Linked DNA regions of Homo sapiens. The protein of the gene in region 1 purifies or fractionates together with the protein of each later gene. This does not show direct contact. Each region holds a gene or a part of one and is shown in the gene's direction. Other genes may lie near its edges.

Region 1 (7,196 bases):
CTCTCAAACTCTACTGCTGCTTTACTAACTTTATGTAATATTCTAAATTCTTTATTGTCATTTCAACAGTGTTCCCAGCATCCTCGCCAGGATTAGTTTCCATCTCAAGAAACCACTTTCTTAGCTCATCCGTAAGAAGTTACTCCTCATCCATTCAAGTTCAATCAGGCGATTGCAGCAATTCAGTCACATCCTCTGGCACTACTTCTAATTCTAATTCTCTATTTCCACCCATCTGCAGCGACTTCCTCCACTGAAGCCTTGAACCCCTCAAAGTCATTCATGAGGGTTGGAATCAACTTCTTTCAAACTCTTGTTCATGTTGATATGTTAACCTCCTCCCATGAATCACAATTGTTCTTAGTGGCTCTAAAATGGTGAGTTCTTTCCATAAGGTTTTCAATTTACTTTGCCCAGATCCATTAGAGGAATCGCCATCTACAGCAGCTATAGCCTTACGAAATGTATTTCTGAATACTAAGACTGAAAAGTTGAAATTACTCCTTGATCCATGGGTTGCAGAATGGATGTTGTGTTAGCAGGCATGAAAACAACATTCATCTCTTCGAACATCTTCCTCAGAGATCTCAGGTGCATTGTTAATGAGTAGTAATACATTGAAAAGAATCTTTTTTGTGAGCAGTAAGTCTCAGCAGTGGGCCTAAGTAAACCATGCTGCAAACAGATGAGCTGCCATCCAGGCTTTGTTTTGTTTGTTTTGAGACAGGGTCTCACTCTGTCGTCCAGGCTGAAGTACAGTGACATGATCTTGGCTCACTGCAGCCTCAACCTCCCAGGCTCAGGTGATCCTCCCACCTCAGCCTCCCAAGTAGCTGGGACCACAGGCATGCACCACCATACCTGGCTAATTTTTGTAGAGACAGGGTTTCACCATGTTACCCAGGCTGGGCTCCAAGCTCTGGGCTCAAGCAATCCACTTGCCTTAGCCTTCAAAATTGCTGGGATTGCAGGCGCGAGCCACCACACCTAGCCTTGCTACTTATAGAGTACAGGCAGAGTAGATTTAGCATAATTCTGAAGGGCCCTAGGATTTTCAGAATGGTCGTGAGCTTTGGCTTCAACTGAAAGTCACCAGCTACCTTAGCTCCTAAAAAGAGAGTCATCCTACCCTTAGAGGCTTTGAAGCAGGGCATTGACTTTGCTCTAGGAAAGTCCTTAGATGGTCTCTTCTTCCAATATAAGGCCGTTTCATCTACATTAAAAATCTGTTGCTTAGTGTAGCCATCTTCATCAATTATCTTAGCTACATCTTTTAGATAACTTGCTGCAACTTCTTCATCAACACTTGCTGCTTCACGTTGCACTTCTATGTTATAGAGATGGCTTCTTTCCTTAAACCTAATGAACCAACCTATGCTACCTTCAAACTTTTCTCCAACTGCTTCCTCATCACTTTCAGCCTTCATAGAATTGAAGAGAGTTAAAACATTGCTCTGGATTAGGCTTTGGCTAAGGGAATGTTGTAGCTGGTTTGATCTATGCAGGCCACTAAAACTTTCTTCATATCAGCAATAAAGCTGTTTTTCTTATTATTCATGTATTCACTAGAGTAGCACTTCTAATTTCCTTCAAGAAATTTTTTCTTTTGCATTTACAACTTGGATAACTGTGTAGTGCAACAAACCTAGATTGCAGCCTATCTTGGCCTTCCTCACTAAGCTTAATCATTTCTGGCTTGTGATTTAAAGTGAAATTTAAAGTGATTTAAAGCGCAGCTCTTCCTTACACTTGAACACTTAGATGCCATTGTAGGGTTATTAATTGGCCTAATTTCAAAATAGCTGTGTCTTGGGAAACAGGAAAGCCCAAGGAGAGATAGAAAGAGGGGAGAACAGCTGGTCAGTGGAACAGTCAGAATACACACAACATTTACCAATTAAGTTTGCATCATATATGGGCCCAGTTCATGGTGCCCCAAAACAATTACAGTACTAACATATCACAGATCGCCATAACAGCTGTAATGATAATAATGAAAAAATTTGAAATATTGTGAGAATTACAAAATGTGACACAGAGACACAAAGTTAGCACACACTGTTGGAAAAATGGTGCCAATAGTTTTCCTCAATGCAGGGTTGCCACAAACCTTCAATTTGTAAAAAACATAGTATCTGTGAAGTGCAATAAAGCAAAGCACATTAAATGAGAAATATGTGTATAATTACTTTGGGCAGTGATTTAATATCTTTCTCCCTCCATTAGACCATAAACTGCAAGAGAGCAGGGACTGTGTCTATCTCATTCATGATTATAATCCCAGATCGTAGCAACATTTCTGCCAGTAAGTGCCCAATAAATATCTAGTGAATGGATAGATGGGGCTTCTCCAAGGAAGGAGGGAATGAATAGATGAGTGTGGGTTAATGAATGAGGTAAGAATGAATGTGAAATAATGGTTCATCCATTAAAAACTAGGGGACACGGTTCAGTTCATTGGATTTGGCCCAGTTTCAGACCGAATTCTAAGGTTGAGGAGAGTTGATGATGCCAAGTACTGTGGTGGTCCTGAACAATTAAAGAGGGATTCTGGGAAGCAGAGTGTGGACAGTTCCAACTCCCTGCCAAGGGGAAGCTCATAGGCAAAGGAAGCTCACTCCAGAGGGGATATGGAAGTTCCATACCCTCTTTTGTCTGAAGAGCCGAAGTCCCTGTTCTCAGGTCGTTAGGAAGTTAAAAAGTAATTTGGAGGTTATCAGAACTGATTGAATTGAGTTTGAACCTCACCTATAGCAACAATGGGCCAGGCTGCTTGACTAATGCCTTGGCGTCAATGGTACAGTTTTCTCCCTCTTGAGCTGCTGGCAGGGACCTGGGCTGACATGTCTCAGAAGGCCCTTAGTCAATGATTAGCTTATCTCAAGGCCCCAAGCCAGGGCAGCTGTCAAAGAGGGTCCCCACTGCGTTCTGCACCTAGATCCTCATTGTGAAATGAAGTATGAAGTGATTGAGTGAGGTCTCTATTGTCTCTGACATTTTACAATTCCAGGATTCTGCCTTCTTGTCAGAGAAGTGTATAGGCAAGCAGTTGGGCAGGTGAGAGGGCTCCGGGTGAGAGGCTCAGAGACTGAGGGCTCAGCCTCTGCTTGAAGAGTCATCATCTGGGAGGCTCTGTGGCCTCCTCAGATGAGTTCATTCACACTCATACCCCAAGATGGAGTCAACACCCCCTCCACCATCTCAGCCTTCTCAGCATCTAAAGCCCCAGCATCAATGCCTCTTTTTTTGGGTTAGGGGTCAGAGCTGTTGTGGAAGGGCATACAGTCATTCTTCACTTGCCTTTGACTGTGTACTCTGTGCACATGGAGGTAGGAGCAGACATGACTTCAACAAGGTCATGCCCCCTTGGCAAGCATCTTTGAGACCAGAGAGGAAGACAGACTAGGGAAAGAATGAGGAGATAAGCACGGGCTGCTGTGAGGTCCAGGGGAGCAGGCAAAGGTAAGAGAAAAGGCTTTAGGATACTAACTAACATATATGGAGCACTAGCATGAGCCAGGCACTATTCTAAGTGCTTTTCAGGTGTTATCTCTTTTTGCCTCACAACAGCACCTACAAGGCACTGTAATTATCCCTACTTCACAGATGAGGGAGTGGAGCCACAGTGAGGTTAACTTACTTGACCAAGGGGGCCAAGTAGGAATGGAGGCATTTGTTGAGTCTTCTAAAGATGAGGAAAGAGTGGAAGTGAGATTTTGTAAGTGCTTGATTCATTTCTACCAACTGAACTGGCAAATAAATAAAAGCATGAGTAAATGGGGGTATAAATAGTCTGTCAGCTATGGGGGTGGGAGTGGGCTCAAGGCAGGCTTAGAGAGAAGGTGCAAGAGCTGTCTGAAAAGGTCAGAGCAAAGCATGAAGCTGGTGAGCAGCTGTGACCATAGCTGGAAGCTTCTCTCTGAGCTTTCTCCTGGTTACCTCCTCCTCCCCTACGTGACCAGTCAGCCAAGTGTTAAGTCCAGGGGAACATTTTGCTGCTTCCAAGTACTGTCTCACTAGTGTTATTTGCCATAACTTGCGGCCACAGGGCAAGGTCCAGGTGCTCAGACCTTTACATCCTGGACTTTCCAAGGCCTCCCAAAGCTCTCTGGCACCCAGGGAACAGTGTGCGTGTCGAGAGCTTAATCCGCAGGAGCATAGCCATGGTTCTCTGGGGTCCAGTGCTGGGAGCTCTGCTGGTGGTCATTGCTGGATACCTGTGCCTGCCAGGGATGCTCCGACAACGCAGGCCATGGGAGCCCCCTCTGGACAAGGGTACCGTGCCCTGGCTTGGCCATGCCATGGCTTTCCGGAAGAATATGTTTGAATTTCTGAAGCGCATGAGGACCAAGCATGGGGATGTGTTCACAGTGCAGCTAGGGGGCCAGTACTTCACCTTCGTCATGGACCCCCTCTCCTTTGGCTCCATCCTCAAGGACACACAGAGAAAACTAGACTTTGGGCAATATGCAAAAAAACTGGTGCTGAAGGTATTTGGATACCGTTCAGTGCAAGGGGACCATGAGATGATACACTCAGCCAGCACCAAGCATCTGAGGGGGGATGGCTTGAAGGATCTTAATGAGACCATGCTGGACAGCCTGTCCTTTGTAATGCTGACGTCCAAAGGCTGGAGTCTGGATGCCAGTTGCTGGCATGAGGACAGCCTCTTTCGCTTCTGCTATTACATCTTGTTCACAGCTGGCTACCTGAGCTTGTTCGGCTACACGAAGGACAAGGAGCAGGACCTGCTACAGGCAGGAGAGTTATTCATGGAGTTCCGCAAGTTTGACCTTCTTTTCCCAAGGTTTGTCTACTCCCTGCTGTGGCCCCGGGAGTGGCTAGAAGTGGGCCGACTCCAGCGTCTCTTTCACAAGATGCTCTCCGTGAGCCACAGCCAGGAGAAGGAGGGCATCAGCAACTGGCTGGGCAACATGCTTCAGTTTCTGAGGGAGCAGGGGGTACCCTCAGCTATGCAGGACAAGTTCAACTTCATGATGCTCTGGGCCTCCCAGGGGAACACGGGGCCTACCTCTTTCTGGGCCCTCTTGTACCTCCTGAAGCACCCAGAAGCTATTCGGGCTGTGAGGGAGGAAGCTACCCAGGTCCTGGGTGAGGCCAGGCTGGAGACCAAGCAGTCCTTTGCCTTCAAACTCGGTGCCCTGCAACACACCCCAGTTCTAGACAGCGTGGTGGAGGAGACGCTGCGGCTGAGGGCTGCACCCACCCTCCTCAGGTTGGTTCATGAAGACTATACCCTGAAGATGTCCAGTGGGCAGGAGTATCTGTTCCGCCATGGAGACATCCTGGCCCTCTTTCCCTACCTCTCAGTGCACATGGACCCTGACATCCACCCTGAGCCCACCGTCTTCAAGTACGATCGCTTCCTCAACCCTAATGGCAGCCGGAAAGTGGACTTCTTCAAGACAGGCAAGAAGATCCACCACTACACCATGCCCTGGGGTTCGGGCGTTTCCATCTGCCCTGGGAGGTTCTTTGCACTCAGTGAGGTGAAGCTCTTTATCCTGCTTATGGTCACACACTTTGACTTAGAGTTGGTGGACCCTGACACACCACTACCCCATGTTGACCCGCAGCGCTGGGGTTTTGGCACCATGCAGCCCAGCCACGATGTGCGCTTCCGCTACCGCCTGCATCCTACAGAGTGAGCTTGGCCAAGCCAGCTGCAAACCTGGCCAGAGGAGTTCTATTGCATCTCTCACCTGTTCTCACCCCTCTGCAGCCCCAAGACCCCACTGGCCACCCCTCCCTCTGGTCCTGTGGCACCCCCTACCTCTGTTCTGCCTGTCCTCGCTCTCTCCCCGCCTAGTCATCTGACAGGCTTATCATTCTCTTTAAAATACCATCTCTCAGAGTGGGTTCTGCCGAACCCTCCTCTCACAGGAAGTCCAGAGGAAGGGGGAGTATCTGTGGGCAACTTGGTTTGGGAGATGATGCCTGCCTTGAGAAGTCCTGAGTACAGAGACTGGTTCCCCCCAGACACGAGTAACATGGCATCTTGCAAACATCAGCCTCCACTCTCCCAGCTTGCTTTAGTTTTTTCAGCAACACTTATCCCACATCCTATGGAATTCAGGTTCTAGAACAGTGTCATCCAACATAAATATGAAGCAAGCTACATGAGTAGTGGGGTTTTTTGGTTTTGTTTGTTTGTTTTGAGACAGAGTCTTGCTCTGTCGCCGAGGCTGCAGTGCAGCGGTGCGATCTCTGCTCACTGCAACCTCTGCCTCCTGGGTTTAAGCAATTCTCCTGCCTCAGCCTCCCCAGTAGCTGGGATTACAGGCACCTACCACCTTGCCCAGCTAATTTAGTTTCCTGGTAAACACATTTTTAAAAAGTAAAATGAAACAATTCATTTTTATAATATACTTTACTTAATCCAATATATCCAAAATATTGGCATTTCAACGTGATCACTATTAAAAATTTTAACGTAATAGTTTTTACCTTCCCTTTTTCATCCTGTCTTCAAAGTCTGGTATGTACTGTACTTTTGCAGTTCTTCCCAGTTCAGACTAGCCACATTCCAAGTGCTTAATTGCCGTGTGTGGCAGGTGGCTGCCCTATTGGATAGCACAGGTCTAGAGAAATGATACCTTTTTTTTTTTTTGAGACAGAGTCTCACTCTGTTGCCCAGGCTGCAGTGCAGTGGTGTGATCTTGGCTCACTACAACCTCTGCCTCCCGGGTTCAAGTAATTCTCCTGCCTCAGGCTTCTGAGTAGCTGGGATTATAGGTGCGCACCACCACACCCGGCTAGTTTCTGTATTTTTAGTAGAGACGGCGTTTCACCATTTTGGCCGGCCTCCTCGGCCTCCCAAAGTTCTGGGATTACAGGCATGAGCCACTGTGCCCAGTCAGGATGTCTTTAATGTAGGAATCATTCAAGATCCCTCCTCAGTGCCCATGTCTCCCCCACCTCAGGGTGCTGTCAACCCTCCCTTGGTTTCCATGATCATTGCTGAACTCAGAGCTTTCTTCTATCCCCAGACCCACATGGGAGTCTCCCAGCACCTCTGACTCAGCTTGGCCAATGCAGAACTTGGCATCTGAACCCCTGCCTCTTCCCTGAACCACTCCTCCTCCTGATTTCCCTGCTCTCTCTGCTCAGAACACTACCATTCACCCCATCTCCCAGAGACACTCTCCCTCCTCCTCTTTCACCTTCATACAAGC
Region 2 (7,112 bases), on another chromosome or scaffold:
CAAGGGCAGGAGAAGAAGGATGTCCTAGTTCCAGAAGAGAGAAATAATTTGTCTTTGCTCTGCCTTTTTGTTCTGGGCTTTCAGCTGACTGGGCGGTGCCTACCCACACTGAATGAGGATGGATTTTCTTTACTTAGTCACTAATTCAAATGCCAATCTCTTACAGAAAACTGACCCAGACATACCCAGAAATAATACTTTACCAGCTATCTGGGTATTCCTTAATCTAGTCATGTTGACTCCTAAATTCAACCATCACCACCCCCTCCCCACAAATGAGTCCCTAACTGGGTTGCAGGAGGTCACTTCAGAAACTCTCTTTGGTTACATTTAGAGATTATAAAGTCATTTACTTTTATAATTAAGGCAGCTGGGATGAGCTCACACAATTCATTTCATATTTAGTAATTAGTTTTTTCCTCTAGGGAAAGATATTCTGGATTATGCTGATGTTGGCCTTCCAGAACAGGGGTTCTCAACCAGGGTGATTTTGCTCCCCAAAGGACATTTGGCAATTTCTGGTAACATTTTTGGTTGGTACAATGGGGAGGGACTTGCTATTGGCATCCAGTGGGTAGAACCCAGCGATGCTGCTAAACATCCTTCATTCCCACCTGCCCAGCAAAGAATCCTCTGGTCCCAAAAGTCAATAGTACCAAGGTTGAGAAACCCCGTTCTAGATGGATAGCTTTCATGACATTTGGGAAGGGCTCTTGGCCAGACTTGTTAGGTTGTTCATCCTTAGTATCACAGATTTCGTATAGAGTTGTGGGGAAAGCCTTTTATTTTTTTTCAAACTGACATCTGTGTATTTCAGAAAGTCTACTCCTGTAGCGTACATAGGATGCATCTCAGGAAACCAATCAAAATGAAGACCAGATTTACAAAGCAATAAATACGTATAGATAAAACATTTTGTTTTTGTTTTCTCAACAGCATAGCAAAAAGCATATGGAAAATTACATATGGGAAACCAGAATTCATTTCTATATTTTGGGCAGATTTATTTTAAAAACAATAACAACAACAACGAAAGACCCAAAAAACAAAGTACAAGCAATTTATCTTCATTTGAGCATAGGGTTCCGATACATATAATTATGATTTTTAAAAAATGTTAGAAACTCTTATGTTTTCAAAAATTATAACATTGCTGTCAGAGTGTATTAAAATCATCTGAATGTGTCCATTACTCAAAAACAGAAGCCTGCTTTGCAAATAGATAGCTCTTTTGTAAATTAACAAATGTGGTATGTTCAAGAGCAGGATATATGAGATATTCTCTAAGTCTCAAAAATGCTAAGATTTTATTTAAGGTTAAAAAAATGATTTAGTTGCTAGAAAGTTAAAAATAGTGGCAATGAAATTAGTCCTTGGGTGAATGTAATTGTATCCTTTGTGTTAACGATGAGAGACATTAACTTTGCATTTACTATAGATCATTTTTATTTTAAATACTTTGGTAAGAAAGGCTTTCAACAAGGAAGTTCTACTGTCATTTGTTGATGAGTGGACCAGTTTGCACAGGGGACGTTATTTGTACCAAGCCACAGCATCTACATCTAGTTCAATGAGCCACAAAAACAGAAAAAAACCAAAAAACACAAGATGAAATCAGGGAAATAATTATTTGTTTATAAACTTCAAGATAGCCTTAACTTGATATGACAGTCCTTGTACTTTGACTTGAAGGAAAACAGATTTAAAAATTTGAAAATTCTTGTAAAAGGAATTCCAGTGTGGTTTATTCTTTGTGAAAGAATAATATTCTGTATTTTGGGTTTATTATTTTGAGATTTATGCAAAGTGTAGTATTTTTGTGGATCTTATCTGCCAGATCAAATTTAAATCTGATTACTAAGAACACAGTATTTTACTTGTTTATAATTCCTATCAGAGTGTTTGCTTTTTCTTTTATTATATACCTTTTTGATTTTGTTTGTTTAGAATTGATGAACATTTTAAAACGAGTCCCAAAATCCCTGGGATTGACCTGAACTCAACTAGGGTGTTATTTGAGAAGTTAATGAACTCTCAGCACTCCATGATTCTAGAACAGGTATGTTTCTATATTTGTAAAGTGCATTCTTAAAAATGCATTTTTGTATCGATGAATTCAACTTCAAGAGAAAAAGAGTAAGATGAAAAAGTGAAAGTCTCCAAATCTTAATTTTGTAAAGTATTTACTCTGGGAATTAGACCTACCTTTTGCTTTCTTTTGGCTTAAACCTTTCCAAGGCAATGCCCCTCTAGAATATACAGTTTGCACTGGCAGGGATCTTTGGCTTTTCTTTTCATGGATGTGTACTGAGGGCCTAGACCAGTGTCAGGCTCATAGTAGGTTCTCAGTGCATAGTGAATGAATGAGAGTTGAGAGTCTATCAAATAGCTTATGAACTTAGAGAAAGTTAACTAGATCTCAAGTATGTTTGAATTTCTCATTACTCTTTTCCCTCATACAGATTTTGAACAGTTTTGAAAGTTGTCTGATTCCCCAGTTGTCAAGCTCACCACCAGATGTTGAAGCCATGAGAATCTATTTAATACTACCTGAGTTTCCCCTACTCCAGGATTCCAAGTATTATATAACATTGACTATTCCCTTGGCTATGGCCATTCTTCGGCTGGATACAAACCCCAGCAAAGTACTAGGTGAATTTGCTAACCTCGATATCAGTGGTTTTATGGTCATTTGTTTTGTTGGTGTGACTCCTGGCTCTCAGTGGATTGAGATCCAAGAATCTATTTGTTGCCATTTAATATCCTTAACACTTAAAACCTTTTTTTCTTTGCTGTTAATTTTTAGCTAACCCTATTTTCAAGTTGAAAATAAAACCATTATTTAGATTATTTGAAATGACTCATGCCAGAATAATCTTGATTTTATAGTATTCACAAACCTAATTTATTTAACTTGAAACTATTTTTTTCTACCACATTTGCTCAGTACCTCAGTATTACTGTACGTTGGTCTTTCTCCTATGTCTAATTTAGGGGGTGGGAGTGAAGTGAACAGTTTCGGTGATACAGAGGTCTCCAAAACAGGAGAGGAAGAAAATGACCTAGTGTGGACTTACCAAATGTTTGTTTTGTTTTTCTTTTTTAGGACCGTTGAGTCCACACTGATTTTTGCAGGCTCCGGACACTTTGCTGAGATAAAAACCTTCCATTCCTCAGTGATTTGGAGAGTGTCTTTCATGGGAGTAGCACCTGAAATGTTTTTATTACTCAAGTGCAGGAAGTCTATCACCTGGCTTTTTACTTTTTTCCCCCCTGGTAAATTTTGTTAGGTGTCATTGCAGCTCAGTAACTTCTGTGTTCCAGATGGACTGGGATGTTACTTGAGTGTGGTCTCGCCGTGAATAAAGAGATTGTGTTCCTGAAGGTGGAATACTGGCTTTTCTATATTGCCTCCACCTTTGTAGAAGAGATAAAAACAGAAATAATAATGAAAGCACTAGTAAATGTTAGTACTTAATTTTTTTTAAGATCAAAAGCCTTTTGGGGGCACATTTTCTCAGGTGTTCTAGTTGATGTGAAACAGAGAGGTGGCAATATCAGAAGAAATCTTACCTGACTTTCAAGTTTTAGAGTTTTTTCATTTTTATTTTTCCAGGCTGGAAAATACAAAGAGAACATAATTGTTCAATTTTACACTTTATTTTTAACTTCTAATTATTGATATTTAAAAGAATACCCCAAAGTAGAGAGTATGCTACAGGTAGTCACCACACAAATTCAGCAGTTGTCAGTATTTTGCCCATTTTATTTCATCTGTCCCTCGCCCTCACCACCTTTTTATTTTTTGTTGGAGTATTTTAAAGGAAATCTCAGACATACTATTTCATTCTTTAAGTATTTCAGTATGGCTGAGTTTATTTCCAACGAAGTATAAGCCAGTGGTATATCTTCTTGTCTGGTTATGAGAAAGCATTTTTTGGTGAGAAGTAAAAATCGTAGTTTTTCAACTAATGATACCTCTTAAAGGGAAGGGAATGGTTGCCATATTGGTGCTGCTTCTAGGGTATGTGGTGCGTCATCCTTTGCATTTCTGCTTCAGGATTTAGTGATGGCTGAAAGCGCTAGGACATAAGAATGCTTTTTGGATTAATACATTGGGCATCACTCCTGCCCAAAATATGTGTATCTTGTCCACATGTAGTCTGGAATTGGACTTTTAAGTTAACCTTCAGATTGAGTCTTTGCAAAAAATCAGACCAGGCTTTACAAAAAAAGCTCCAGGGATTCTTTTACAGCTGTTGTTCTCCCCAAAAAGGTTTTAATGGATTCTTTTTAAAGTCAGTTTTGGGAAAATGTATTTTAGACTAATGTTTATCTTCTAGACAAAGCAATTTTTAACTGGCAGGCAGAAGACATAAATACTTGCCCAAGATTACATGTTGAAATATGTCTTTTCTTTCTTTCTAAAGATAACTGGTGGTCTCAGGTATGCCCGAAATATTTCATGAAGCTGGTAAACCTCTATAAAGGTGCAGTCCTTTATCTACTGAGGGGAAGAAAGACATTCTTAATTCCCGTACTGTTTAACAATTATATCACAGCAGCTCTCAAACTCTTGGAGAAGTTATATAAGGTGAGCATAGGAGGTGCTAGTGGGGAGGGGGTGATTAGATGGTAGGGTAAAATGTCCTAGTGAGATGTTCTCTGGGAAGCCATGTTTCAGTTGTCTGTATTTTGTTCTTCATTAGGTAAATCTTAAAGTGAAGCATGTGGAATATGATACATTTTACATTCCTGAGATTTCCAATCTCGTGGACATTCAGGAAGACTACCTCATGTGGTTCTTGCATCAAGCAGGGATGGTAAGAATTCATAAAGCATATTTTAAAGCTTTAGTCTTTTTATAAGAAAAGCACATGTGAGCTGTATAATATGTCTTTGACTTTGATGTCAGTGTGTCACCTATTCTTCATCCAGCTGGCCTTTTGCATTCTAGAAACTTGGAAGTGCTTTAAGTAATCATCAATGTTATAAGGAGTCATAAATGAGTAGTCACCCAGAATGTTACACATTTTATCAGTTGCCCCCTTTAAAAAAATCAGAGTATCTAAAGTAGTCAAATCCACAGAAACAGAAAGTACAGTGGTGATTGCTAGGGGCTGGAGGCAGGGGAAAATGGAGAGTTGCTATTTAATGAGTATAGCTTCAGTTTTGCAAGATAAGAAAGTTTGGAGATCCAATTGTACACCAGTGTGACTATACTTAACACTGCTGAAAGTGTACACTTAAAAATGCTTAAGATGGTACATGTTATGTTAGGTTTTTTTTTAAACCATAATTAAAAAAACAAGACACATACAAATATGAATTTTTAGCTTTCCTCAAAACTTGGAAGATCTGGCAACACGACCTGTCTTCCCATATGACACCAAGTGGCTGGAGTTCAAGAGTGACTCTTTAGATGAGGCTTATGTATATGCCACAATTCCCACTGCAGCGTAATTTATCCCTGACATTGAGGAAGGGTCATTTGCTAATTATCATCTTCTGACAGCCTACTCCAGTCATCATATGTCAGCTACCTGGACCCCGTAGGCCCCTTCTGATTGAGAATTATGTGTGTGAAAGTGTCACACATCCCTGACCAAGTGCTGTCTCACCGTATTTTAGATATGCCATTCAGGGGCCTGTGGATTCCTGCCTACCACCTCTGGCGTGGCAGGAACTGCTCCTTTTGATAGCACACCAGCTTGGGATATATGCAAGGCTCTTTAGGATCTCCCATCTGTGGAGTATGTGCAAATTTGAGTTAGGTCAGAAAACAGAATGATAATTTGGTTATTGTATTTTGTGAAGCCATGTGCAGCAGATTTGAGGTGAGTCCTTGCCAGTGTAGCAGGTTCATCACCAGTATTAGGGCAATATTTTTCCTGTGGGGTTTTTGGAAGTCAGCAGTTGTCTCCAAAAGCAAGACATTTAAATAGGCTGATCTAACTGAACAAGAAGGATTGTTTTCTTTGTCAAATAATAGATGATGAATGCTAGACACAATGTTGTATTTTTTTCTCTAGAGACTTAAAAAATGCATACAATGTTTTATTTTTAAATAAGATTTTATGATTACCCTGAGAAAACAAAATACTTTTTTTTTGAGACAAGGTCTGGCTCTATCACCCAGGCTGGAGTGCAGTGGCACCATCTTGGCTCACTGCAACCTCTGCTTCCCAGGCTCAAGCCATTCTCCCACCTCAGCCTCCCGAGTAGCTGGGACTACAGGTGCGTGCCATCATGCCTGGCTAATTTTTGTATTTTTTGTAGAGATGGGGTTTTGTGATGTTTCCCAAGCTGGCCTTGAACTCATGAGCTCAAGTGATTCACCAGCCTCGGCCTCCCAAAGTGCTGGGATTACAGGGGTAAGCCACTGTGCCTGGCCAGGAAAATACTTTTTAATATAAATGAGTTAGAGTGTTCTAAATGGGCTGACTTGGGAAATTTAACATGGAGGCTAGTAATGAACTCTGTTTTCACTTTCAAATTTAGGAATTATTAAAAAATAAGCCCTTCTGTTTTATCAATTTATGAATAATTATTCACTGAATAATAACATTATGAGCAGAAAAATAAGCCTGATGAATTATTTAGTCCAACTGCTTTGTTTCTAGATGAGGAAATGGAAGTTAAACAATTTTTCCACTAATTTCATTAGTAGCAGTAAAAGTCAATTCTTCTGATTTCTAATCTACCCTTTCTGTGACTTGATGCTGAATAAAATAAGTCTAACAAATTGTAATTCTTTTTTACTCTGAAAAAGAAGTTGCTCATGTTAAAATCTAGATTATTATGACAGTAGTCTCTGAGTAGAGATATTTAAGTAACTTTTACAATATTTTAAACTTCCTTTCTTTTAACATTTGATAAATATCTTATCAGATCTTGAATAACAGATGCTCATCTCTTCAATAACTATAATAGTTATTAAAGAAATATGGAAAATTACATGAAATTAGTATATGGCCTTTTGTGATTTTTGTGGAATTTTTTTTATTGTATGAGGTACAATGCTATTAGAAATTGAATTTTAAATGTCTTGATATTTTGAAGTTTAATTTAAAATACTAAAGCTATTTCATATGTTATTTTTGTTTAACTAC
Region 3 (6,549 bases), on another chromosome or scaffold:
ATCATTGTTTTCACAGGCATTGATGCAGTGTAGGCCCTGTTACCCCCATTTTACAGTTAAGGAAGCTGAGGCGCAGAGTGCTGAAACAACTTGCTGAGAAACACACAGCAGTGAGTGGTGTGAAGCCAAAACTTGAGCCTAAGTCTCACTGGATCCAAGGTCCATTTTCTTTCAACTACATTATACACTTGCTTATAGAATCTTTGGCTGCTCTTGGTGTCCTCAGATCATATCCTTCATCCTTGCAGGCACAAGGCTGACAAAAGTTAAGGATTGGACAAAAATGACAATAAGGGCATCGTTACCCAGTCTTCCTTGAAATTGGGTGTTTGGAGGGTGGGTTAGGGTAGGGACAGAGATTCATGGTTGGGGCAGGTGGTGAGGCTTAGACAAGGAAAGAAGTACTGAAATGGTCCACATGAACACTCCTAGGAGAATATATTGATATTGAAACATTCTGGGCACAACTCAGTGTTAATCCAATAAACATTACTTAGTGCCTAATATTCTGGTGCTGGGGCTACATACAGTGCTTATATGTGCTTCCCGCCCCTCATAAACACATGACAAGCCTGAAATGCTTGTGTTAAATATTTTTTAAATTAAAATTAAAAAATACAGGCTGGGTGTGGTGGGATTACGCCTGTAATCCCAGCAGTTTGGGAGGCCAAGGCGGGAGGATCACCTGAGGTCAGGAGTTTGAGACCACCCTGGCCAACATGGTGAAACCCCGTCTATACTAAAAATACAAAAATTAGCTGAGCATGGTGTTGAGCACCTGTAATCCCAGCTACTTGGGAGGCTGAGGCAGGAGAATCACTTGAACCCAGGAGGCGGAGGTTTCAGTGAGCCGAGGTCATGCTACTGCACTCCAGCCTGGGTGACAAGAGCAAAACTCTGTCTCAAAAATAAATAAATAAATAAATAAAAAGAGATAAAGCTAATACATGCTATTTTGCAGAACTTGGCAGAAAAAGGACGAAGGGAAAAGGGAGAATCACAGCTGAGACTGTGTTTACATAATAAACTCATTGTGGTCTTTGTGTGTGTTGGGGAAAGCCTGGCAGAACCAGAGAATTTAAGCAAGTGGAGTCTGTGGGGGGAGGGGATTAGGAGGTCATCTTTGCCTTACTCTAACTTCCCCAGAAGATATTGAGGCTGGGCCCCTTCTATTCCTGTCCTCTCAGTACCTAACATAATTGGAAGAAGCAAAGGCTTGGATGCCTCAGAGCACTAGCCCCAGTACCACCCATGTGGGGCTGTTCTAGCTTGGTAGTCAATGACACCATCACACAAATTCCTCAGCCCTGAGAACCCTCTCTCATCAGCTTTCCTCTTGCCAGCCTGGGACCTGATGGAATGGAAAATAGAGAACTCTGCTAGTTATAGAACATTGTGGCTACCTAGTTAATACCTGGAAAAGCAAGAAGAGGGTATATATATTTTAGAAATAAAAGTGAAATCTAATATTTTTACAGAGTCTTAGAGTTTACAAAGCTTTGGCATCTACCATCTCATCTCTTTGTATTTGAGTCTCAGCATAATCTACGAAACAGGCTGTATTTTGCCCATTTGACAGATGGGAGGACAAAAGCCCAGAAAAGTTAATGTTGCCATCCTAGTATGTCTGAGATTAGGAACGAATAGAGAGGCATATCCCTGAGTGTAACAGGGAGGGCCTTATTAGGGAAGGCATCTTGGAGGTGACTCAAGAGCTGAGTAGAAAAACAGAATTATGCACTAAATAAAGAAAGGGAGACTCCAGGTAGGTGACTTTGCAAAGACTTGAAAACATGGACTGCCGGAGAGGTTGGCAGGAGCACGATGATGATGATGATGATGATGACGACGACGACGACAACGATGATGACAAATGACAGCAGCTAACATCTATCCGTTGCTTACTATGTGTAGATACTGTTAGAACAGATACTCTTCAAAGCAGTTTATCTGCATTAACTATAAAACCTACCTTGTAAGGTAGGTACTTTTATTATCCCCATTTTACAGATGACAAAACTAAGGCACAGAGACGTAGCTTGCCTATAACATCATATAGGAATGATCTTAAGGGCTAATATAAGAAGCATGAATTTTATCTGGAGAGCCGAGAGCACCCCCCTCACTCTACTTAACAGAGAGGAGGTGGGCACAGACTTCTGATTTAGAAAGTCTTCTTGGATGCAGGGTGGACCGAGGTCGGAGAGGGGAAAAGAAACTAGAACCTGACTCAGATATCTGTCCAAGGAAGACCTGAACAGAGACAGTGGGGATAGACAGCAGAGGACTATCCCACAATTCCTCATGTTTGTGGATAAGAAATTGTCCCTCACGCGGATCACGAGGTCAGGAGATCGAGACCACCCTGGCTAACACGGTGAAACCCCGTCTCTACTAAAAATACCAAAAAAATTAGCCGGGCGTGGTGGCAGGCGCTTGTAGTCCCAGCTACTCAGGAGGCTGAAGCAGGAGAATGGCATGAACCCAGGAGGTGGAGCTTGCAGTGAGTTGAGATCATGCCACTGCACTCCAGCCTGGGTGACAGAGCGAGACTCCGTCTCAAAAAAAAAAAAAAAAAAAAAAAAAAAAAAAAAAATTCGCCGGGCGTGGTGGCTCATGCCTGTAATCCCAGCACTTTGGGAGGCTGAGGTGGGCGGATCACCTGAGGTCAGGAGTTTGAGACCAGCCTGACCAACATGGAGAAACCCTGTCTCTACTAAAAATACAAAAAAAAATTAGCCAGGCTTGATGGCTCATGCCTGTAATCCCAGCTACTCGGGAGGCTGACGCGGGAGACTTGCTTGAACCTGGGCGGCGGAGGTTGTGGTGAGCCGAGATCACGCCATTGCACTCCAGCCTGGGCAACAAGGGCAAAACTCCGTCTCAAAAAAAAAAAAGAAAAAAGAAATTGTCCCTCACATGTCTCTGCTTCCTCTGTCTGTCAAGGCAGAATATATTTCAATCTTCCTGCCTCAGGAATTGCGTGAAAATTAATGGGACAGAGGCCCAGCTGGCTTTCATCTGCTAAACAACACCCTTGCACGACTGGTGGTGCACATTAAATGCTGAACATATAAAATGTGCTTTGATGGAGGACCTGGGAATAATTATAGCTTGCTAATTATTGTTAATTTTACCACAGCTTTGAAACTCTAGACTTTCTCAATGACTCAAAAAGAGATTGCAACCCCTGTATGCCATGAAACTAGCCACACAGTGGCAGACAAGCAATTTCTCACAGGCTCCATTCTTTCATTATTTACATGGTTCAGCTACTTACGTGGGATACAGGAAAAGAAAAGCAACGATTTGCTGTGTTAGAATCAAATTGTACAAAAAACTCTTTACAGTCTTGCTGGCTCTTTAAGAATTTGTTCCTGTTTGTCTCTTTATAGCCAGTGCACAAATAAATATTATGTGCGTGTGTGCCTGTGTGTGTGCGCTTGTGTGAGGTACAGAAAATTAGTGTTTAACAGAACTTTTAACCCTCTGGACACCAGGATACCTGTGTTTTACCCTTGATATGGTGAGTAACAGAACTGCTTCCCTAACTTCCCTTCAGATTCTGTGTCACTTCGTGTCCACAAACACTTTATTTAAGGTCTCATCACTCCTAGGCAGGGTGCCAAAGACCCCTCTCAGAAATATGAGGAAGTTGATAGCAGTGTGACTTCAGGTCTTTAAGCCTCATCAGTACCACCTATAAAACGGGTCTGATAGTCCCTACCTGTCAGGACTGGTGTTAGGATGAGATAATGTTTGTGAACTGTAAACTATATAAACGTGTGCTACTGTGAGAACTGGACAAAGAAGAGAGGGAGTGAGAGAAATTAAGGGAGGGCTGGGGCTGGGAAAGAACGAAAAGGGAGTCGCGTATAGAGGAGAGCGCGACAGTCGCGAGCCACACTTTGCAATGAAACTCTTTAGACTTTCTGCCGGGAGAGCGGCCCAGACGCGCCAGGTCTGTAGCAGGAGGCCGCGCCGAGGGCGGGTCCCCAGAAGCCTACAGGTGAGTATCGGTTCTCCCCTTCCCGGCTTTCGGTCCGGAGGAGGCGGGAGCAGCTTCCCTGTTCTGATCCTATCGCGGGCGGCGCAGGGCCGGCTTGGCCTTCCGTGGGACGGGGAGGGGGGCGGGATGTGTCACCCAAATACCAGTGGGGACGGTCGGTGGTGGAACCAGCCGGGCAGGTCGGGTAGAGTATAAGAGCCGGAGGGAGCGGCCGGGCGGCAGACGCCTGCAGACCATCCCAGACGCCGGAGCCCGAGCCCCGACGAGTCCCCGCGCCTCATCCGCCCGCGTCCGGTCCGCGTTCCTCCGCCCCACCATGGCTCGGGGCCCCGGCCTCGCGCCGCCACCGCTGCGGCTGCCGCTGCTGCTGCTGGTGCTGGCGGCGGTGACCGGCCACACGGCCGCGCAGGACAACTGCACGTGTCCCACCAACAAGATGACCGTGTGCAGCCCCGACGGCCCCGGCGGCCGCTGCCAGTGCCGCGCGCTGGGCTCGGGCATGGCGGTCGACTGCTCCACGCTGACCTCCAAGTGTCTGCTGCTCAAGGCGCGCATGAGCGCCCCCAAGAACGCCCGCACGCTGGTGCGGCCGAGTGAGCACGCGCTCGTGGACAACGATGGCCTCTACGACCCCGACTGCGACCCCGAGGGCCGCTTCAAGGCGCGCCAGTGCAACCAGACGTCGGTGTGCTGGTGCGTGAACTCGGTGGGCGTGCGCCGCACGGACAAGGGCGACCTGAGCCTACGCTGCGATGAGCTGGTGCGCACCCACCACATCCTCATTGACCTGCGCCACCGCCCCACCGCCGGCGCCTTCAACCACTCAGACCTGGACGCCGAGCTGAGGCGGCTCTTCCGCGAGCGCTATCGGCTGCACCCCAAGTTCGTGGCGGCCGTGCACTACGAGCAGCCCACCATCCAGATCGAGCTGCGGCAGAACACGTCTCAGAAGGCCGCCGGTGACGTGGATATCGGCGATGCCGCCTACTACTTCGAGAGGGACATCAAGGGCGAGTCTCTATTCCAGGGCCGCGGCGGCCTGGACTTGCGCGTGCGCGGAGAACCCCTGCAGGTGGAGCGCACGCTCATCTATTACCTGGACGAGATTCCCCCGAAGTTCTCCATGAAGCGCCTCACCGCCGGCCTCATCGCCGTCATCGTGGTGGTCGTGGTGGCCCTCGTCGCCGGCATGGCCGTCCTGGTGATCACCAACCGGAGAAAGTCGGGGAAGTACAAGAAGGTGGAGATCAAGGAACTGGGGGAGTTGAGAAAGGAACCGAGCTTGTAGGTACCCGGCGGGGCAGGGGATGGGGTGGGGTACCGGATTTCGGTATCGTCCCAGACCCAAGTGAGTCACGCTTCCTGATTCCTCGGCGCAAAGGAGACGTTTATCCTTTCAAATTCCTGCCTTCCCCCTCCCTTTTGCGCACACACCAGGTTTAATAGATCCTGGCCTCAGGGTCTCCTTTCTTTCTCACTTCTGTCTTGAAGGAAGCATTTCTAAAATGTATCCCCTTTCGGTCCAACAACAGGAAACCTGACTGGGGCAGTGAAGGAAGGGATGGCATAGCGTTATGTGTAAAAAACAAGTATCTGTATGACAACCCGGGATCGTTTGCAAGTAACTGAATCCATTGCGACATTGTGAAGGCTTAAATGAGTTTAGATGGGAAATAGCGTTGTTATCGCCTTGGGTTTAAATTATTTGATGAGTTCCACTTGTATCATGGCCTACCCGAGGAGAAGAGGAGTTTGTTAACTGGGCCTATGTAGTAGCCTCATTTACCATCGTTTGTATTACTGACCACATATGCTTGTCACTGGGAAAGAAGCCTGTTTCAGCTGCCTGAACGCAGTTTGGATGTCTTTGAGGACAGACATTGCCCGGAAACTCAGTCTATTTATTCTTCAGCTTGCCCTTACTGCCACTGATATTGGTAATGTTCTTTTTTGTAAAATGTTTGTACATATGTTGTCTTTGATAATGTTGCTGTAATTTTTTAAAATAAAACACGAATTTAATAAAATATGGGAAAGGCACAAACCAGAAGTCGGCATTTGTGAAAAGTCCCTCCAGATTTCTATCACATTGGTCTCTAATTTCCCAAGACTTGTATTTTTTTTTTATTTCAAATTATAACACTTTTTTTTCCCCCAGAAGTGGGTGTTTCATGTTGCTACTCTGGTGTGTCCTAAGATATCCTAACTGGCCAGTGTAAATGCTATTCTTTCTAAATAAGATTATTTGGAAACTTCCTTCAAACTGCAGGAGGGTGAGCTTGAGGGAGGAAGCTAAAACTAGCTGCTTTTATGAAAAAGAGTGCCAGTCTTTGGTCATCTCTAAACAAGGCTTATCACCAATGGAGACAGAAAACTCTAGTTCAAGAGCTGTACCTCCTTTGAATCCCAGCCCTACTTTGAAATAAGTGGTACTATTTCCATTTAGCCTTTGAGCAAATCACTTAATCTCAAAGCGTTGTGGCTCTAAGATTAAACGACTTTCCCACATAATTAGAGCCAGTCTGCAGTGGGCCCTACAC

Evidence for each region.
Region 2: the proteins of CYP8B1 (region 1) and HERC3 purify together in Homo sapiens (affinity purification with mass spectrometry; 2 studies listed by BioGRID and IntAct, with this or other methods). This does not show direct contact.
Region 3: the proteins of CYP8B1 (region 1) and TACSTD2 purify together in Homo sapiens (affinity purification with mass spectrometry; 2 studies listed by BioGRID and IntAct, with this or other methods). This does not show direct contact.

Annotation. Positions count from the first base shown.
Region 1 is NC_000003.12:42,872,784-42,879,979, reverse strand, and holds the start of CYP8B1 (7-alpha-hydroxycholest-4-en-3-one 12-alpha-hydroxylase), read left to right. Parts: upstream 1-4,100; 5' UTR 4,101-4,163; coding exon 4,164-5,669; 3' UTR 5,670-7,196. UniProt on the Homo sapiens protein: A cytochrome P450 monooxygenase involved in primary bile acid biosynthesis. Catalyzes the 12alpha-hydroxylation of 7alpha-hydroxy-4-cholesten-3-one, an intermediate metabolite in cholic acid biosynthesis.
Region 2 is NC_000004.12:88,665,430-88,672,541, forward strand, and holds part of HERC3 (probable E3 ubiquitin-protein ligase HERC3), read left to right. Parts: intron 1-1,947; coding exon 1,948-2,059; intron 2,060-2,462; coding exon 2,463-2,652; intron 2,653-4,430; coding exon 4,431-4,594; intron 4,595-4,709; coding exon 4,710-4,823; intron 4,824-7,112. UniProt on the Homo sapiens protein: E3 ubiquitin-protein ligase which accepts ubiquitin from an E2 ubiquitin-conjugating enzyme in the form of a thioester and then directly transfers the ubiquitin to targeted substrates.
Region 3 is NC_000001.11:58,574,933-58,581,481, reverse strand, and holds TACSTD2 (tumor-associated calcium signal transducer 2 precursor), read left to right. Parts: upstream 1-4,229; 5' UTR 4,230-4,325; coding exon 4,326-5,297; 3' UTR 5,298-6,049; downstream 6,050-6,549. UniProt on the Homo sapiens protein: May function as a growth factor receptor.